Linked DNA regions of Homo sapiens: region 2 is linked to region 1. Evidence: fine-mapped expression QTL. A gene starts in region 1. The other region holds a variant in brackets. All regions are shown on one strand. Distances are from middle to middle. Region 1 holds the start of CLEC2A (C-type lectin domain family 2 member A). Region 2 holds the start of CLEC12A (C-type lectin domain family 12 member A).

Region 1 (10,624 bases):
TTCTGAATAAACACTGACTCGATATTATTACTGGTGTATTCCTCTCCTATAATTGTTAATCAGGAAACCCTCAATCAAGTACATACATCTCAAAATAACAAAGGATAGCAAACCATCAAAAAGTGCAAGGAAGATAAGTACCAAAAAATGATTGCTATAGCTGTTCGGCTCGAGAGAGTGGTGAGTGGAGAAATCACTGAGTTTTGGGGGAATGAGGAAGGAAAGGAAAGGAAAGTTTACTTAAAAGGTAGAAATAGTTTGAATGGGGGATTTTAAGCAAAAAGGCATAAAGATCATCAAAAGGTCCACGATTAGAGCAAATGTTTATAACAGATATATAAGGCAATAGGATTAAAGACAGGAAAGAAAGGAGTCATAAGGTCATGACAGAAGACCTTAAATGAGAGATATATTTTTCTTTATTCTTTAAGCCATGGAGGAAATAAACAATGTGTTTCAGCCAGAGAATATTCAAGATAAAAGCAGTAATTTATTTATTTGTGGTAAGCAAACAAAATTAGAGAAAACTCAGGATTTGACACTCGTGGAAATGCTATGAGGTTAAGAACAAATAATAATTCTATTAATGATAAAGTAATTGTAGCTGATATATCATTAGTAGATGTAGAAACAATCTAGGAAGAATGTGCGTGTATGTGTGTGTCTGTGTGTGTGTGTGTACAGTCATGCATAGCTTAGCAATGGGGAGATATTTTGAGAAATGTGCCTTTAGGTGATTGTGTCATTGTTGGAACATCATAGAATGTACTTACACAAACTTAGACAGTATAGCCTACTAACACCTAGGCTATATATTACAGACTGTTGCTCCTAGACTACAAAACTGGATAGCATGTTATCGTACTAATTACTGCAGGCAATTATAACACAATGCTAAATGCTTGCGTCTAAACATAGAAAAGGTACAGTGAAAATACCATATAAAAGATCAAAAATGGTACACCTTTACAAGGCAGCTTCATTGTAATCTTATGGGACCATTGTTGTTATGCAATCTGTCATTGACCAAAACATTGTTCTATGGTGCATGACTATATGTGTATATCGTGCATATATGCATAAACACAGATTATATATATGTATGCATGCCTATATGCATATATATGCTTTATATGTATGTATATATACATGTACATATACATACATATATTTAAATATCAGAAAAGAGGACTTGAAGAAAGAAAAATTTAAAAAGAAGTCATGTTTTCTCTCTTTCTTCAGAACTTAAAGCAGCCTTAGTGAATGAAAACTTGAAAAAGTTACTAGTTTTCATGATCACCAGACTACAGATAATGTGCAATAAAGTAATTTCAAGACTGGATTGAGAGAAGCCAGATTCTGAGATGTTTACAAAGAGAATGTTTGATAGGAAGAAGAGTTTGGTAATTTATCTTACATCTAGAGAAACAATAGCTAAAGATAGAAAACATAAAATGTGTTTTTTTTTTCAAGATTAGGGAGAAATGAAGAACAAGGAAGAAGAAAAGATAAAAACCACTGCACAAATTTCAGACACCCAAAATAGTAATTTGTGGGCAAAGCCATGTCTTACACAAAAGGTATTGAAACAATTGAGAAAAAAAGGCTTTACCATACGACAACATCAGCTTACAAAATTTATTTAAGACGTATTATTGACCTGAACATAAAACCTGAAACCATACAATTTCTAGAAAACATAAAATAGTTTGTGACCATGAGAATTAGTAAAGCTGTCTTAGAGAAAGAAGAGAAAGTACAGTGTAAAATTAAAAGAAAATGATAAATTGAATTTAATTGAAATTTAAGGGCTGGGCACAGTGGCTCATGCCTGTAATCCCAGCACTTTGGGAGGCCAAGGAGGGTGGATCACCTGAGGTCAGGAATTTGAGACCAGCCTGGCCAACATGGTGAGACCCCTTCTCTACTAAAAACACAAAAAATTAGCTGTGCATGATGGCAGGCACCTGTAATCCCAGCTACTCGGGAGGTTGAGGCAGGAGAATACTTGAACCCAGGAGGCGGAGGCTGCAGTGATCAGAATTATGCCACTGCACTCCAGCCTGGGTGACAGAGTGAGGCTCTGTCTTAAAAAAGAAAAAGAAAGAAAGAAAGAAGAAGGAAAGAAAGAAAGAAAGAAACCTCTGCCCATTTCAAGATACAAGACACTGTTGTGAATATAAATATGCAAGTTACAGACTGGGAGAAAATAGTCACAATATGTGTATGCAAAAAAGACTGGTATCGAAAATACTAAAAGGTCTGTAGTTTAGAGATATAGTACAAACAACTTGATAAAAAAAAGAACCAAAGTCTTGAACAAATACTTACAGAAGAATACACGCAAGTGAGCAATAAGCACATAAAAGATGTTCCATATTATTAGTCACAAGCAAAATGCAGAATAAAACCACAATGGAATATGACTACATGCCACTTGCACTGTTAAAATGAAAAAGACTGACAGCACCAAGTGTTAGCAGGATATAGGGGAACCGAAACACATACACAACTGGTTGAAGTACAAAAATGTATAAGTGTTTTGGAAAATTCTTTAGCAGTTTTTATTTTTAATTAAAATATATGTCCTTCATTCCTGTTCTGGCATGTGATATTTGCAATAGATTGGAAGTCATCCCTACTGTTCTCACAGTGACAACAAAAAAAAAGCTGAGAAAACTAAATAAAAACAACACTTCTAGTATACAGAAATAGTATTGATTTGTTAAATGTGCTCTTTTAAGTAACCCTCTTGAACTCTGGTATTATTTTTAATAGTTTTCTAGTTGATTCTATTGGTATTTATTTTTATATAATCAAATTATCTGAAAATATTGCAGATACAACTCTTCCATTGCAATCCTTGTCCTTTATAATTCCTTTTGTTTTCTTATATCACTGGTTACCTTTAGCATTGTACTACACTATTGCTAAACAGTAGTAGTTACAGTGAACATTTTTTTCTTGTTTTTAATCTTAAATGGAATGTTTAAATTTTCATTATTAAGCACTGTAAAAATGCTGTATAAATTTAACATACAACATTAGCAATTTAAAAAAGAATTTTTCTATTCCTAGTTTCTTAACAGGGACTTATCTCAGATAGACATTGAATGTTATCATGTTTCCTTGTTGTTATCAAATGCACTTACTGAATAATTGTGTGGACTTTCTTTCAAAAAATTTTAATATTTTTTGCACTGATATTCTGATATCTAAGCATTCCTAACATAAATCCACTTGTATATGAATTTTTAACTGCTTTGTTGTATATAGTAAATAAATATTTTCTTGGAATTTCTACTTCTAATTTCATAAGAAGATGAGTCTGTTTCTTTTTGTCTTGTTCTGACTTTGTTTGGAAATCAAAAAGTCTATTAAATCGGGGTAAATTTCTCATTTTGCTGTTTTTTGAAGCAAGATGTCCAATACAAAAATTAGCTATTTCTTGAAAGATCAGTAGATTACTCTATTTTAGTTGCCTTTTCAATGTATTTATTTTTAATTTCTATAATTCTATAATTATTTATTTCTTCTCATTACATTTTGGCATTTTATATTTTTTAGACCTCTACCTTCTTTTTTTAATATTTATAAGCGCATTAGTGTTTTAGTTTGCTAGGCCTGCCGTAACAAGTTGTCACAAACTGGGCGGCTAAAATTAACAGGAATGTATTGTCGTACAGTTCTGGAGACAAGAAGTCTGAAATTAAGATGTTGGTCGGATGGGTTCCTTGTGAGGCCTGTAAGGAAAGAATCTGTTCCAGGCCATTCTCCTTGGCTTGAAGATGGCATTCTCCCTGTATATGGATCCGTCTCTAAATTTTCCTTTTTTATGAGAACACCAGTAATATTAAATTAGGTCCCAACCTACCGACCTAATTTTAACGTGGTAAAGACACTATCTCCAAACCAGATCACATTCTGAGGTAGAGGGGGTTAGAGCCTCAATATATAAAATTTTAAGGGAACAGAGTTTGCCCCATAATAATTGATGAATTATTTCCATAATGTTTTATTAAATTTTAATATTTGTGGTTTTTGTGATTATTTGTACTTTTTTGATATTTTCTTTATTGTATCGTCTTCTGCAAACTTTTAGACATCTAGTTCTCTCGTCTTTTCTAATAGCCACCATTTGATTTGTTATCCCTCTCATTTCTTCTCTTTTTCACTAACGTCTCCTATTATCTCATTTTTTAATTTTGTATATTTTTCTTTCACTCTATTGTGCCAGATGCATGTTTTTTTCTTATCTATTTTGTTTGTACACTTTTGAAGTTTCAGTTTGAGGTATTTGGCTTTTATTAGTTTTAGAAGTTGGAATATTATTTCTTCAAATATTTCCTATCCGCTATTCTTTTTTTCTCTCTCTCTGTTTCAGATTCTTGTTATCTAGAAGGTGGCATTTCTACTTCTATTTTTCATATCTCTCAGCTTTTATTTTATATTTTCTAACTGTTTTCTTTTCTGTCATGTTTTTAATAGCATCTCCTAGGTCTTATTCATTCTTAATCAGCGTCCATTCTATTAATTAACTCCTCAAAGTGTTCTTTATTTCAAACACTATATTTCTATAATTATTATTTTCACTTGGTTTTTATTGTGTTCTTGGTGCTTCTTCATTTCATTAATATCTTTTCTTTTGGAGCATTTTTATTATGCTTTAATTAAATTCTCAGACTAGATGTTCTAATGATTCCTGCAGCCCGGCTTTCTCATAATCTTCCAGTACATGCTTCACAGTACTTCATATTTTGTCTTCTCGTTATGCAATGAGATAAATTTTCTTCCACTTTTTACTCTCTAAACTCTTAAATCTGTTACCCAGACAAGCCTGACTAATTTATTTGGCTAAAGGGATGGAATCTTATTTCTTTTTGTAATACTAATGTCCAATTGTGTAAAATGTAGACTAATTTTTAAAAATTTTCTTATGAAGTTTTCATAGATCAAGAGTTCGTAACTATGACCAATAGTTAGAATATACAACGAAGTAAATTTAACCTTACCCTAAAGAAACTTCTAAATAGAACATCCTTAAATTAAAATGGAAAGTCTTCTAAGACAGAGAGATATTATCACTGAAAACATTCTAGTATAGGCTGCTAGAAATGCTGTAGCTAGAAATCGTATGGTAGATGAAAAGTTTTACTAGGTAGCTACTGAGGTCTCTTCAACCTTTAAGAGTATCAGGCTTACTTATTATTAAAAGAATTATCCCAATTGCCCTGGGAATTCATATCAGTAAACTCTGATAGTGGTTTCAGCTGGAGTCCTTAACTCATTTCAAGATTTTACTTTTTATCTCTTCACTGTCTTTATCTTAAAGTTTTGGCAGGCTTCCTATTCCAGTCATTTGGCATACAATTCATTCGTTTTCTTTAACATAAACCCTCAGAACTATTGTGAATGGAGGGTGTTTGTATGTGTACCTTGTTTTTATTTATTGGTTTGTTTATGTTTCAATCCACTGAAAACAAACTTCATTGTTGGCCTTAGCTGAATCTTAAAATTTTTGAAAAGTTCTTTTCAGTCTTATGAAGTCACAATCATCAAGCCTCCTTCCAGAGTGAAGCATTTGCTTTTTATTCTGTATAAAAGTGTTAAGCAATTTTTTCCCTGTGAAAGTACATTTTAAAAATATTCTTATTGAGATATAATACACGTACCATAAAATTCTGCCCCAAAACCTTCTTACACACAAGCTTATACCCTCTCTTGCAGACATAAAACTCTACATGCTCTAACAGGCTTCCACAATTCTCCGGAAGTGCTTCCCCATCCCTCACTTACTTTAGTAGACTTTCACAGTAAGTAAAGAGTCCATATTTTTAAGCTGTCCTGTATTTTGTTTTATCTTTCCTTTACTTCCTTCTCATTCACTCTATAAAACTTACCTATCCGATGTATGAAGCCATCAGCTCTGCCATCCCGCAGCTCTGGATTAATCATGGCAAGGCGCTAACCGATGGAGATCAGTAGGAGAGGACTAGAAAGCTTTTCATGTACATCACTTATTTAGGCACTGAGCAAGCTTCAGTCAAAAGAGACTTAACCAATCCAAATGGAAAACATCAGTACTAATTTTAGATCAAAGATAAAAGTAGGCAGACTTGTTAGTTTAAGGAAGGAATTTAAAAATTAACTCATCCATAACAAAAGGATCGTAAAGTCAATCATGTAAACACCACAACAACCGTGCTATGGAACATTTCCATCATCTTTCTTTTTTTCCTTGTGTAATCACTATCTTTTCTGACCCTGGACCCTGGCAAGCATTACTTTGCTTTATATCAACATAGTTTTTCCTTTCATGGAATTTTTTTTTTTTGAGGCAGGGTCTCACTGTGTTGCCCAGGCTGGAGTGCAGTGGGGAAAACTTGGCCCATTGCAACTTTGACCTCCTTGGCTCAAGCAATCCTCCTGCCCTACCCACCCAAGTAGCTGGGACTACAGTCGCGCACCATCATGCCCTGCTAATTTTATTTTTTGTAGAGACTAGGTCTCATTATATTGCCCAGACTGGTCTTGAACTCCTGGGCTTAAGTGATCTTCTGGCTTCAGTCACCCAAAGTACTGGGATTACAGGCATGAGCCACCACGGCCAGCCCCTTTCATAGAATTTTATATAAATGGTATCATATAATATGTAGTGTCTTGTCTCTTGCTTATTTCATTTATAATACTTTTGAGATTCACTCAAGTTGTTGTGCAGGTAAGTAGTTCATTCCCTTTTATTTCTTAGTAGTATTCCTATTGCATGTTATACCAGAAATTATCTCTTTGATCACTAGTTGATGGACTTTTGTTTCTAGGGTGGGACTGTTATGTATGAAACTGCTGTACACAGGCATTTTTGTGTGAGCAAGTTTTCTCTTGGATAAATTCCCAGAAATTGAATTGCTGCATCATATAAGTATGTTTATCTTTATAAAAAGCTGTAAAACTGGCTGGGCGCGGTGTCTGTCACCTGTAATCCCAGCACTTGGGGAGGCCGAGGCGGGTGGATCATGAGGTCAGGAGATCGAGACTATCCTGGCTAACACAATGAAACCCCGTCTCTACTAAAAATACAAAAAATTAGCCGGGCCTGGTGGCGGGTACCTGTAGTCCCAGCTACTCGAGAGGCTGAGGCAGGAGAATGGTGTGAACCCGGGAGGCGGAGCTTGCAGTGAGCCGAGATCGTGCCACTGCACTCCAGCCTGGGCAACTGAGCAAGACTCCGTCTCAAAAAAAAAAAAAAAAAATTTGCTTCAGCCTGGAATCTTTGCTTTTGGTGCTTCGGTGCAGAGACAGAAAACGGGCACTCAGAGTCACACTGGTAGTTGCACACTGTATCTGCAGAGGGCGTGTCTCATCTGTACCCCGCTGGGTTACGGGATTTCAGGAGGTATTTTTGTCCACCTGCGAATTCCATTTATTACCTTTCATTTAACAGACAATGTCTTTCCTTTCTGCAGTTGATTTTGCTAAAGAGGCAATTCATAAGGTGAGGTCCTACTCATAGTATGACTTGCTTTCTCACGACCTCCTTCCATTTTTAGTAACTCCCTGGTCTATTTGGTGTCTGTAAAAAAAGAATCTGGTAATGGAGACTTCTTTTAATATGGAAATTTGGCCTGGCAATAACTTATTCCTTTCCACATGTAACTGACCCAATCTGGTTTCCAGATGACAAGTATGCAAGCCCCAGATGTTGAGAAGCCATATTTCAACTGCTTCCTGCATCTGTTGAAATATAATTGTTCATACTTGCCATCCCTTATGTTTCTTGTAACAATTTGCACAGTTCTTGCCAGAATAAATGCCATTCTCTGTATGCTTCAGAGAATTCCGCAATTTGATCAGTGTGTGTGTGTGTGTGTGTGTGTGTGACCTTCCGTAAAACACTTCTAAAGGGTGAAAGCTCTTGTATGGCATAGACATGAATTCCTTCCTCTGGTAATAATTAGGTTATTTCCAGAAGCACAGTGTCATTTTTTTTTTTTTTTTGAGATGGAGTTTCTCTCCTGTGGCCCAGGCTGGAATGCAATGGTGTGATCTCGGCTCACGCAACTTCCACCTCCTGGGTTCAAGTGATTCTCCTGCCTCAGCCTCCTGAGTAGCTGGGATTATGGGCATGCACCACCATGCCTGCCTAATTTTGTATTTTTAGTAGAGACGAGGCTTCTCCATGTTGGTCCAGCTGGTCTCGAACTCCTGACCTCAGGTTATCCACCCGCCTCGGCCTCCCAAAGTGCTGGGATTACAGGTGTGAGCCACCATGCCCAGCCCATTCTTTAAATAAAAGCTTTCCTGTTTAAGGCTTTTCAAAGGAGCAGACCACTTTGAAGATTCTCCCTAGGGTTGATATGTGTCTAATTCATTTTATAAAATTATTCTTATCTTCATTTTAAAGCTTTGGCTATACAGTCAGAAATGTCCTGGATAACAAACTATTTTGTATTTAATTTAATTTGCCTCTTCATTGTCTTATTCAACAAACATTTACAGAATGCCTAATTAGTACTTGGCATTTTTCAGGGTGCTTGAAATACGTCTGTGAACAAAATAGACACAGATTCCTTTACTCATGGGGTTTCCATTCCAGGAAGTTTAAACATAAAGACTAAAGATAGTAAACAAATGGTACAATATTCCATATTCCAGTATGTAATAAGTTCCACTGAAAACAAAAGATAGACCAGGTTAAAATTGATTAGTAATGTCAAGGTTGAGGAGTGTGAGCTGCAATTTTAATAGGGTAGTCAGGGTAAGCATCACTGAGAAAGTGAAATGTAAATGAACTTTGAGGAGGGAAAGTGCCATGTGGATACCATCATCCTGGTGGAATTGTGTGAAGATCCTAGGGCAGATGTATGCCTGGCACATTCCGGAAAGAGTGAGGAAGCCAGCTGTGTCTGGAGGAGAACAGTGAGAGAAGAGTTCAGCTAAGTACCAACAGGGTAATTCTGTTTTTGCCATTCTGAGGCCTGTGGCTAATATTCTAAGTGAAATGGGAAGATGGAAAATTCTTTTGAGCAGAATAGCGGTGTGATCTGACATACATTTAATATGTTCACTCTGGGTACTGTCCTCAGAATAAGTTGGAAGGGGATGCAATCCACTCACCTAGCCTGAATAACTATACTTAAAAATGTTCAAAGTTCTGCTCATGTTCATAAAATTCAACCCGCAGCCCATTATTTGTTCCTTTCTCTTTTCTTCTTTACCTGTCAAATTTTCTCCACTGGGCGCTCTGACTCCTTTTAACATTATTTCTATTTCAGTACAGCTGGATAGAAATGTCATCATTAGGAGATGCAAAGCGGTCCCCTTCTAATGTGATAGTCACCACTCCAGAGATGGCTAATGGAGATGTTTAATGACCTTAAAAATGCATAAGTCTCATTCCCCATCCTCCTTTTGCTAACGATGGTCATTTTTTGTAGCACAATAATCTGAAAATTTTAGAATTATTTTTGTTCTTGTACAGTACAGCATGTAAATTATAATTTAACAACACCTGCATTTAACCTGCTAACACGGTTTACACACTATTAAATCCCGGCCCCATAGAGAATGAGAAGATGAGATGCTGATAAAATTTGCTTCTGATGATGCTGAACATACCATCTATTTTTTCTCTTCTTTTTTTTTTGAGACGGGGTCTCGCTCTGTCACCCAGGCTGGAGTGCAGTGGCGCGATCTCTGCTCACTGCAAGCTCCGCCTCCCGGGTTCACACCATTCTCCTGCCTCAGGCTCCCGAGTAGCTGGGACTACAGGCGCCCGCCACCCCGCCCGGCTAATTTTTTCTATTTTTTAGTAGAGGGTAAGGGGTTTCACCATCTTACCCAGGATGGTCTCCATCTCCTGACCTCGTGATCCGCCCACCTCAGCCTCCCAAAGTGCAGGGATTACAGGCATGAGCCACCGCACCCGGCCAACCATCTATTTTTTCAATATTATTTTCCACATTGTTTGAATGTCTGTAATGTGTGTGAGACCCAGCTGAATTTAAAATGTGGTTCTACCATTTACTATAATCCCAGGTAAACAATCTTTCATTTGCTCATTTATTTCAGCAAAAAATGATAAAAATTCTTCATCATTTAGGGGTAAAAATATTTAGCATAGTTCATGGTACAAGTTAATACTCAAAAGAGAATTACTCATTATATCAGGAAATGTAAAAGCGAAGAAAAGAAAACTAGGCCAAAGTAAAATATTAAGAGGTGCAGAGACTTTAATATCAGCCAGATGTTAACCCTTGCCCTCTGTCCTTCTGAGACCCGTGTAAGTATTAGCTGGAATCTAAACCCCATAGGTTTGTGGGAATCCGGAGAACTCTCCATGATTTCTTCAAGTCACCAGGGCTTCCTTCTTCGTGGTCCTCTCCACTTCTAAATACTCACGTTTTGCTCCCATGACTCATAGCACAAAACTCGATTCTTTCACTAGTTTCAGCAACGACAGCAACAACAAATCCACTTAATGTAAATAATTCGCTAGTTTCATAACTTGACTAAAGACAAAACAAATAGATTAATTCTTTATTTACTGGACCTCCTGAGAAATAACTGAGCACAGCCTCGAAAATAGAACGTAAATTTCATTAGCCCGGTTTCTAAAACACGTGCA
Region 2 (10,624 bases), 36 kb after region 1:
CACATCCGTGTGAAGAGACCACCAAACAGGCTTTGTGTGAGCAACAAGGCTGTTTATTTCACCTGGGTGCAGGTGGGCTGAGTCCGAAAAGAGAGTCAGCGAAGGGAGATAGGGGTGGAGCTGTTTTATAAGATTTGGGTAGGTAGTGGGAAATTACAGTCAAAGGGGGCTTGTTCTCTGGCGGACAGGAGTGGGGGCCACAAGGTGCTCAGTGGGGGAGCTTTTGAGCCAGGATGAGCCAGGAGAAGGAATTTTATAATGTCATCAGTTAAGGCAGGAACAGACCATTTTCACTTCTTTTGTAGTGGAATGTCATCTGTTAAGGCAGGAACCGGCCATCTGGATGTGTATGTGCAGGTCACAGGGGATAGGATGGTTTAGCTTGGGCTCAGAGGCCTGACATTCCTGTCTCCTTATATTAATAAGAAAATAAAAATGAAATAGTGGTAAAGTGTTGGGACGGCAAAAATTTTGGGGGCTTGGTATGGAGAGATAACGGGCGATATTTCTCAGGGCTGCTTCCAGCGGGATTAGGGGCGATGTGGGAACCTAGAGTGGGAGAGATTAAGCTGAAGGAAGATTTCATGCTAAGGGGTGATATTGTGGAGTTGCTAGAAGAAACATTTGTCATTTAGAATTATTCGTGATGGCCTGGATACGGTTTTGTATGAATTGAAAAACTAAACAGAATAAGAGAAGGAGAAAAACAGGTATTAAAGGACTAAGAATTGGGAGGACCTAGGACATCTAATTAGAGAGTGTCCAAGGGGGTTCAGCATAATTACTTACTTGGTTGGCAAGTTTTTGGGCTCTATCCTTGAGTTTTTTATGTTGTCATACACCAGGCCAGATTGATTTAGGTAGAAACAACACTCTTCATTTAAGAATATACAGAGTCCTCCTTTTTCAGCAGTGACTAAGTCAAGGCCTCAGCGGTTTTGGAGGACAACTGCAGCTAAAGAGTCAACTTGGGCCTGGAGGACTGATAAAGTTTGTGATATGTCTGTGATGCTAGCAGAGAAGACACTAGAGAGGCTATGGAAGGTCGTGACAGAGGTTGAAATGCCTCCTATTCCAGTACCGAGAGCAATAGTGGAGGCAGAAAGTCTTAAACTGATAAGCAAGGGAATTAGTGGAATAACTCTTTTTTGTCGTGTCGGTGTCATGAGGGGAACAGGGAGCTCTTCGGTCCTATTTGCAAATTGAATTTTAGGAGTAAGGAAAACTAGTGTGCATGTACCTGTCCAATTAGCAGGTAGACACATGGAGGTAGAGGATCCACAGAGGAAGAAGAGACCTTGTGCGAGGCAAAACTGGAGAAGCAAAGTAAAAAGATGAGAAGGAGTGCTGAAAGGGGTGTCTTGTACCCAGACTCCTGGGGATCCAGCTAGGGCAGCAGCCATCAGAGGTTGTAATGGGGACTGGTGGGGTAACTGCGTAGAGGGGGAGGTTCGATTTTCATGGTGTATGAGAAAATGTTGAGTGTCTATGAGCTACCTTTCACTGTTATTTATGGGGCTGGGTATAAGTAAACAACAAGAGGGCTTTGGAGATGAAGAGTAAAGGAACATCAAAGTGAAAGGTTACCCAGGGGAATTCCAGTGGGTCTTTGCTGAGAGATACATAAAGGAGCAGCCACAGGAATAGTAGTTTGTGTTGTGAGAGGTAAATACGGGGGGAGTAGAGTTGATACAAGGAGAAAGGTTTTTTAAGTAAGTGTGGAGGAGGGCGGCAGCTTGCTGACGTGAAATGTCTGGGGAGGTCTAGCTGGACCTGTCTAGAAAGTAAATGAGTTCATCAGGAGGGTAAAGGTGAGGGCTGTTAAAGGAAGTTTGGAGGTGTAGGAGACAGGAGATGTTGCCTAGTCTGCATGTAAGGTGGGGACAGCTGTGTAGGCATTGGAAGAAAGGGAAATGCAAAGCTAGAGTTTGTTCGCTAAGGAGGGATTAGAAACAGCTAGGAGAGAATGAGTAATGTTTATAGTGTGGTGGAGATAGCTGGGGAGAGGTAGAGGGTGGCATAAGAATGGGAATGAGAATAAGATTGAGTATAAAAGTAAAGAATAGAACTTCATCAGGGTGAAAGTATTGGAGGGTCCCCTGCCAGCAAAGATTATCTATCCCCTCTGAGAGGGAGTTAAGAGTTGCCAGTCCTGGGTGGGGGCAAATCCTCGAGCTTGATGTGTAGGGAAAGGAGGGGGCCTGAATAATCTATGAGGAGGAGTAGAATAGTAGATGGAACAGAAGTTATTTCCTTGAGGATAGATTTCCACGATGGAAAGGAAATGAGAGGTTCTAAGAGGTGGGCTGGTGACTTGTACTATAGCATAGCCTGCCTTTGCTGGTGTGTGGCGATTAGGCCTGGTGGAACTACTATGAATAAACTAAGTGTGTTCAGGGTGAGGAACACGAAAGAAGGAAATATGAGGAAAAGGGGTGAATGTCAGGTGAATCAGAGAGATACAGTCATAGGGGTCAGGTGTGGTATCCAGAATACTGTGGGAGGCTGGATTGAAGTCTGGGCCAGGAACAATGGTAATTGTCAGAGACTTAACAAAAAGGGAGTGTAGCTGAAGGAGCCAGGGAGCAGAAAGTGTATGCGTCAGGTGGGAGAAAGAAAATAGATTTTGGAAATTATGAGAACCGTAGAGAATGAGTTGGGCATAGTTTGTGATTTTTTGGGCCTCTAAAAGTATTAAAGCAGCGGCAGCCACTGCATGCAGACATGAGGGCTAGGCTAAAATGGTAAGGTCAAGTTGTTTGGACAGAAAGGCTACAGGGTGCGGTCCCAGCTCTTGTGTAAGAATTCTGACTGCCCTAACCATGCCTAGGAAGGAAAGGAGTTGTTGTTTTGTAGAAGGGATTGGGGTTTGGGAAATTAGCCGGACATGATCAGCAGGGAGAGCACATGTGTTTTTATGAGAATTATGCTGAGATAGGTAAGAGATGAGGAAGAAATTTGGGCTTGACTGAAGTAATGGGGGCTGTCTGTGAAGCCTTGCGGCAATACAGCCTAGGTAATTTGCTGAGTCTGATGGGTGTCAGGGTCAGTCCAAGTGAAAGTGAAGAGAGGCTGGGATGACGGGTGCAAAGGAATAGTAAAGAAAGCATGTTTGAGACCCAGAACAGAATAATGGGTTGTGGAGGGAGATATTGAGGATAGGAGAGTATATGGATTTGGCACCATGGGGTGGTTAGGCAAAACAATTTGGTTGATAAGGCACAGATCCTGAACTAACCTGTAAGCCTTGTCTGGTTTTAGGACAGGTAAAATGGGGGAATTGTAAGGGGAGTTTATAGGCTTTAAAAGGCCATGCTGTAGCAGGAGAGTGATAATAGGCTGTAATCCTTTTAAAGCGTGCTGTGGGATAGGATATTGGCATTGAGCGGGGTAAGGTGATTAGGTTTTAATGGGATGGTAAGGGGTGCAGGATCAGTCGCTAAGGAGGCAGTAGAGGTGTCCTATACTTGTGGGTTAAGGTGGGGAGATACAAGGGGAGGATGTGAAGGAGGCTTTGACCTGGGGGAAAAGGTGGCAATGAGGTGTGGCTGTAGCCTAGGAATAGTTAGGGAAGCAGATAATTTAGTTAAAGTGTCTCAGCCTAATAAGGGAACTAGGCAGGTGGGGATAACTAAAAAGGAGTGCTTAAAAGAGTATTGTCTAAGTTGGCACAAGAGTTGGGGAGTTTTAAGAGGTTTAGAAGCCTGGCCATCAGTACTTACAACAGTTATGAAGGCAAGGGAAACAGGCCTTTGAAAAGAAGGTAATGTGGAGTGGGTAGCCTCCGTATTGATTAAGAAGGGGACGGGCTTACCCTCCACTGTGAGAGTTACCTAGAGTGTCTGTGATGGTCCTGTAGGCTTCTGAGGTGATTGGGCAGTGACAGTCTTCAGTTGTTAAGCCGAGAAGATCTGGGAAGGAGTCAGTCAGAGAGCCTTGGGGCAGAGTTCCAGGGGCTATGGGAGTGGCTGCCGGTGAGATGGACAGTCTGATTTCCAGTGGGGTCTTGCACAGATGGGACATGGCTTAGGAGGAATCTTGGGCTGCGGGCATTCTCTGGCCAGGTGGCCAGATTTCTGGCACTTTTAGCAAGCTCCTGGGGGAGGCAGGCCTGGAGGAATGCCTGGCCACTGTGGTTTAGGCGTTTGGAAGTTCTTGCGTGCTGGAGATGTGGCTGGGGTTTGTCTCACAGTGGAGGCAAGGAATTGCAACTCAGAAATATGTTGCTACTTTGCTGCCTCTACTTTATTATTGTACACTTTGAAGGCGAGGTTAATTAAGTCCTGTTGTGGGGTTTGAGGACTGGAATTTAATTTTTGGAGTTTTATTTAATGTCGGGAGCAGATTGGGTAATAAAATGTATATTGAGAATAAGACGGCCTTTTGACCTTTTAGGATCTAGGGCTGTAAAGCGTCTCAGGGTTGCTGCCAAACGAGCCATGAACTGGGCTGGGTTATTATATTTGATGAAAAAGAGCCTAAACGCTATCTGATTTGGGATAAAGAAAAAGGAACATTAACCTTGACTATGCCTTTAGCTCCAGCCACCTTTTTAAGAGGAAATTGCTGAACAGGTTGGGGAGGGCTAGTCATGGAATGAAACTGTAAGCTGGGCCAG[G/C]TGTGAGGAGAGGAGGTGATAAAAGGATTACAGGGTGGAGAAGTGGAGGCTGAGGAAGAATTGGGACCTAGCTCGGCCTGGTGAGGAGGCGAGAGGTCACATGGGTTTGTAGAAAAGGAAGATTAGAAAGACTCAGCGATGCTTGGGGTTGGGACTGAGGGGACAGGCGGGAGGGAAAGAAGGAAGATTTGGGATGAGTTGCATTGGGAACAGAGACTAGGGAGGGACCAATGTGTAAAAGAATGCCTGGACGTCAGGCACCTCAGACCGTTTGCCTATTTTACAACAAGAATTATTTAGATCTTGTAGGATGGAAAAATGGAAAGTGACATTTTCTGGCTATGTGGAACTACTGTCGAGTTTGTATTGGGGTCAAGTGGCATTGCAGAAGAAAATAAGGCATTTAGGTTTTAGGTCAGCTGTGAATTGAAGAGGTTTTAGGTTTTTAAGAGCACAGGCTAAGGGAGAAGAAGGGGGAATGGAGGGCGGAAGCTTGCCCATAGTGAAGGAGGCAAGCCCAGAGAGAAGAGAGAGTAGAGACATGGAGAGAAGGGGTTGGGGGTTCTTGCCCCCAAGAAGAGCGGTACTTGCCGCTAAGGGTGAAGGAGAAGGGGTTGGGGGGTTCTTGCCCCCCAGAAAAGCGGAGAAGGGGTAGAGACATGGAGAAAAGCGGTGGGGTTCTTGCCCCCCAGAAAAGCAGAGAAGGAGTAGAGACACGGAGAGAAGGGGTTGGGGGTTCTTGCTCCCAAGAAAAGCAGTACTTGTCGCTAAGGGTGAAGGACCAAGGCAGGTGTCCCCACATGGTCAGACACCTCTGAAACATGGGTGAATAATCAGGCAGGCATCCCTGCCTGATTCCAAAGGGAAGACTGTCTTCCCAATTCCGTGACTGGTGCCGGAGTTTTGGGTCTATGAATAAAACGCGTCTCCTTCATCTCTGTCAGAAAAGGAAAGGAACTGAAATTAAGAGAGAGATTGAAGGGTGATGCCAAGATTGAAAGGAGAAAGAGGTTGAGGGATAGTGAGAGAGGTTGGAGAAGAGAGTAAAAAGAGGCCACTTACTGGATTTAAAATTGGTGAGATGTTCCTTGGGCTAGTTGGTCTGAGGACCAGAGGTCATAGGTGGATCTTTCTCATGGAATAAAGAGCAGGAGGACAGGGGATTGATCTCCCAAGGGAGGTCCCCTGATCCGAGTCACAGCACCAAATTTCACTCGCATCCGTGTGAAGAGACCACAAAACAGGCTTTGTGTGAGCAACAAGGCTGTTTATTTCACCTGGGTGCAGGTGGGCTGAGTCTGCAAAGAGAGTCAGCGAAGGGAGATGGGGTGGGGCTGTTTTATAAGATTTGGGTAGGTAAAGGAAAATTACATCAAAGGGGGGTTGTTCTCTGGCGGGCAGGAGTGGGGGTAACAAGGTGCTCAATAGGGGAGCTTTTGAGCCAAGATGAGCCAGGAGAAGGAATTTCAGAAGATAATGTCATCAGTTAAGGCAGGAACAGGCCATTTTCACTTCTTTTGTGGTGGAATGTCATCAGTTAACGCAGGAACCGGCCATCTGGATGTGTACATGCAGGTCATAGGCATATACACAGGCATATGATGGCTTAGCTTGGGCTCAGAGGCCTGACAATAACAACCCACAAAAAATATATAATTTAGGTAATGGATAATGTATCACTTATGTTTAATATTGGAAGACATCTGTAATTATATTTGCAGATTGTCTCTTAGTATTCAACTAGAATGAAAATTGATATAGGTTGATTTCATATCTTGTCTATTGCAAATAGTGCTGCAATAAACATGGGAGTGCAGGTATCTATAGTATATATACACAATGGAATATTATTTGGCCATAGAAGGAAATGAAATCCTGTCATTTGCAGAAACAGGAGTGGAACTGAAGGTCATTATGTTAACTGAAATAAGCCAGGCACAGAAAGACAAATATCACATGTTTCCACTCATATGTGAGAGCTAAAAGAATGAATCTCATGGAAGCAGAGAGTAGAATTGTGGTTACCAGAGGCTTAGAAAGGGGTGGTGGGGGATAAAGATAAGTTGGTTGGGTACAAAAATAAAATTAGATAGAAGGAACAAATTCTAGTATTTGATAGTACAGTGGGAAAACTATAGTTGACAATAATTTATTGTATATTTCAAAATAGCTAAAAGAGAAGAAATGTACTATTCCCAACAGAAGGAAAAGGTAAGTGTTTGACGGAATGAATATTCTTATTACCCTGATTTGGTCATTACACATTGTATACAGGTTTCAAAATATCACATGTACCTCCAAAATACATACAACTATTTTGTATCAATAACAAAATTTTTAAAAAACTGATATAGGCTGTGAAGGGCAAACCATGTAGTCATCTCAGAGCTCAGCTTATTCTTGTGGATATAAATGTTTTAGCTGGCTCTAAACCAAGGATTTTGTATGAAGTAATACTTATTCAAATATTTTCAACAAAATAGAGTACCTTGCAAACAGGACTTTGAGATTTTTCATTTGTTTCCCTTTACAGTTCGTCATATACGCTTCATCTTCTAGTGTTGATTGATGAAACAACGTTCCACATGAGACAGCAGAGCAATAGAACACAGAACAGGACTCTGCCTGTGTGGTGGCCGGTTTCCATCCTTTCACAAACAAAGAGATATTTATAAACAAATATTTATATGCAAATATTTGATCCACCTAGGAAAAATAGAGGGCTACTCTTTCCCACCAGGAGAGGCCTTATAGCCTGTGCACATATTTGAACAAGGCAACCAGAGACTTTGATGGTCTCAACTCTACCACTCACCAACTGTGTGATGTTGGATACAAACTTAACCACTTTGCAACTCACTTCCGCATCTGTAAAATAAGGGTGATAATAATAGCACCTGGTTTAGAGAGTTGTAAAGATAAAAGCAACATTAGTAAAGTACTTAGGATGAAGTAATCATGTTTTGAATATATTTTCCTTTAAATGTGGCTGCCAATATTTTCATGGTAATATTTTCAAATGTATTCAATAGCTTTTTCTTTATCAGGAGAAAATCAGTTGTTTTAATTAAATTGACATTGAATTTTTGATACATTTAGGAGAATTTAGTTTCTTTTTATACAGTATTGACGCTTCTAATCCCACAGCATGTTTTTCTATTTTTTTCTTTTCTTCAATAGTTTTAAAATTTTTTTGTTCATTTTGGTTATGCAAATATCTAGTTAATTTCTATCTGTAATATTTTCCTATTTATTTTTAGTAGCTCTTATAAAGGGAGCATTTTGTTTTTCCTGTCTATCCTGACATAATAAAGCAATTAGTTTTTAATTGATTTTTAAAAATATTTATGCATTCTCTTTCATATGTATAATAATAATACCTAACCATTTTATGATTTACATGTGGCAATGTCAAGAAGAATTTTAAAGTAAGATTTACTAACGAATATTAGAGAACATGCTCAAAAACAGTCCTCTCCACCCCCTCACTTCCACTTGCATTCTTGATCAAGAAGTGAAATAAAAAATACTAAGACTATTGAGTCAAACTAATAAGACACAAATCTGGACTTTGGAGACTCATTTCCCTCCCACTTTTGATAGCTTAGCTGAGGAGGAGATCAAATGGTTGAGTCAGTCTGTAGAGAGATAGCAAGGCTGATTATAGTTTTCCTGGCCTGCAAAGCTGTTTCCAGAGCCCTCAGTATACAGACCTTGGCCATCAGTATGCATACTCTCTGGTGTGGTTTCTGGGCATCAGATCCCTTAATATATAGGTTGGCGCTAAAGTAATTTTGTAAACTTTTAATGGCAAAAACCACAATTACTTTTGCTTTTAATGGCAAAAACCAGAATTACTTTAGCACCAACCTATATATTGTTATTTAGAGAAACTAGGCATTCCCTACCTCTCTTAGGCAAACCTATAGCTATGTAACATGGCAACGGAATGACACTAACTGTCTCATTCTCCTTGGGAGTGCTCTCTGTATGTTCAGTCTCCCAGTGAAGAGAACCCTTCTATCAGGACCTTCATCATCATACAAAAGGAATATCTATGCCAGGCCACAGCTGCAGATTAGTGAGTGTCTGAGAACTGCATCTTTTCTGTTATTTTTCTGCTTGAAAGTTTTTCACCAATAAATCCTACACTATGTCTGCACCATGTGGTGCTAGTTATTTGTGTTCTCTTGCATGACACTGATGATGTTATCCAAACACAATTTCAAAAACTACTTTCTGTAGTTGGTAAATATATAGAAATTGAGAAAAAGGAAGAAATATGAGGAAGAAAGATGTTATCTGTTGCAACAGTTCAATGTTCTTAACTGAAGCCACAGATGAGATTTGGCTCATTTGCAGACATATGGGTGATTGGTACAGTAGGTTTATAAACAGAAGTTTAAACTTGTAAGCTTAAGCTTCCGTTTATAAACAGAAGTTTAAAATTATAGGTCCTGTTTAACATTCAGCTCTGTTAACTCACTCATCTTTTTGTGTTTTTACACTTTGTCAAGATTTCTTTACATATTCATCAATGTCTGAAGAAGTTACTTATGCAGATCTTCAATTCCAGAACTCCAGTGAGATGGAAAAAATCCCAGAAATTGGCAAATTTGGGGAAAAAGGTAAGATTTTGAGTTATGGATGTGTTGTAAGTTTGTATAATAGAAGTGGTTATAGACTTGCATCTTCAATATTAGTGATATAGTTACTATTCAACTTAAATTTTCAATTAAGTCTCTTATGTTTAAGCAAAGGAACAAAAAGTGTATGAACAAAATGATTAGAAAAAAGGGTTTTGTAAAAACACTTATCTCTGCATTGAATAATCAATCTTTTACATTTTTGAAATTTTTTATTATCACACTCAATATAATTGGGACAGAATTTTTCAAATGATTGGGTTGTATGAAGATTTTATTTCTTTATGAGATGAAGCCATGGAAAAAGAAACATGTTCAGGAAAGTCATGATTTCATATGTGTGTGTGTGTGTGTGTTTTTTTTTTTATAAGAAAATGCTTTGTGTCAGACAGAGAGACCTTTATAGGATTTCATTTGACTATCTACCAAACTAAGCATAAATCACCCTAAAATTTCTCCTACTTCTTTTGGAGATTTTTTACTAACTTACTAAAAAATAAAACATGTTAAGTTAAATGAAATGAATCATTAAGGAATAAAGGAAGAAAAGAGGTAAAGAAATATCAGAAGACATAATATATTCATAATATTCAAAACCACATTATATCAAGTAACTTTGTATTTTTCAATTCAAATTAAAATCATGAAATAAGTGGTCCATCTGTGTTGACTTTCACTTAAACAAAACTACTCTTCATCTTACTCAGAATCCTATAGTTTTCCTATTATGTATGGTTCTTGCCTTCTGGCTCCTAGCCTTTTGGGAGTGAAATCTGCCCTAGCGAATCCATAGTTTAAATCAGTGTATTTGAGTTAAAAATAACTTAAACAGTGATAGTGGAGAACACAAAGAAGGGTGATAGAAACAGAAAAATAAGGAGAGAAGAGTGCCAAAATTCTCACATATTATTTAAGTTGTTGTCCTCTCTCCTCTCCCCACACAGAATATAACATCTTTAATATTCTAGCATTGCTATAAACAGAAATTTCACTGTTACATCTTGGATCCATTTATGATGAGCATTGTAAATCTTGAGAAAGGATAGCAGATTAATTCTGTTGGCTTCTTTTTTAATACTGAAATTTTTTTTTAGAAAGAAGAAGGGTTTAAGAATTTTACAATATTTTCTGTCTTTATTTCCTTGTTTATATTTCTTCTTTTATACACTGAAAGAGAATGGGCATATCATGAGCCTAATATTACCAACAATTGCCCTTTACTTGTCCTCTCACACCCTTTCCCACCTCTTTTCCTGCCAATCCACCTTAAGTTCCCACCACAAGAATTCCCTGAATTCACGGAAATATTGAATCCATGTCTTCTTCATGTTCTTAATCTCATCTAATTTTCTCATTATCG

The links.
Region 2: its variant is fine-mapped to the expression of CLEC2A in whole blood (TOPMed, PIP 0.98).

Annotation. Positions count from the first base shown.
Region 1 is chr12:9,926,375-9,936,998 of GRCh38, forward strand. It overlaps CLEC2A (C-type lectin domain family 2 member A), which reads right to left and starts at 5,996. Exons shown (of 5, transcript NM_001130711.2): 1 at 5,901-5,996. The coding sequence starts at 5,955. LINC02470 (long intergenic non-protein coding RNA 2470) reads right to left here. Exons shown (of 5, transcript NR_104634.2): 5 at 10,205-10,440.
Region 2 is chr12:9,962,442-9,973,065 of GRCh38, forward strand. It overlaps CLEC12A (C-type lectin domain family 12 member A), which reads left to right and starts at 8,968. Exons shown (of 6, transcript NM_138337.6): 1 at 8,968-9,246. The coding sequence starts at 9,156. The variant G/C (reference allele first, on the strand shown) is at 4,619.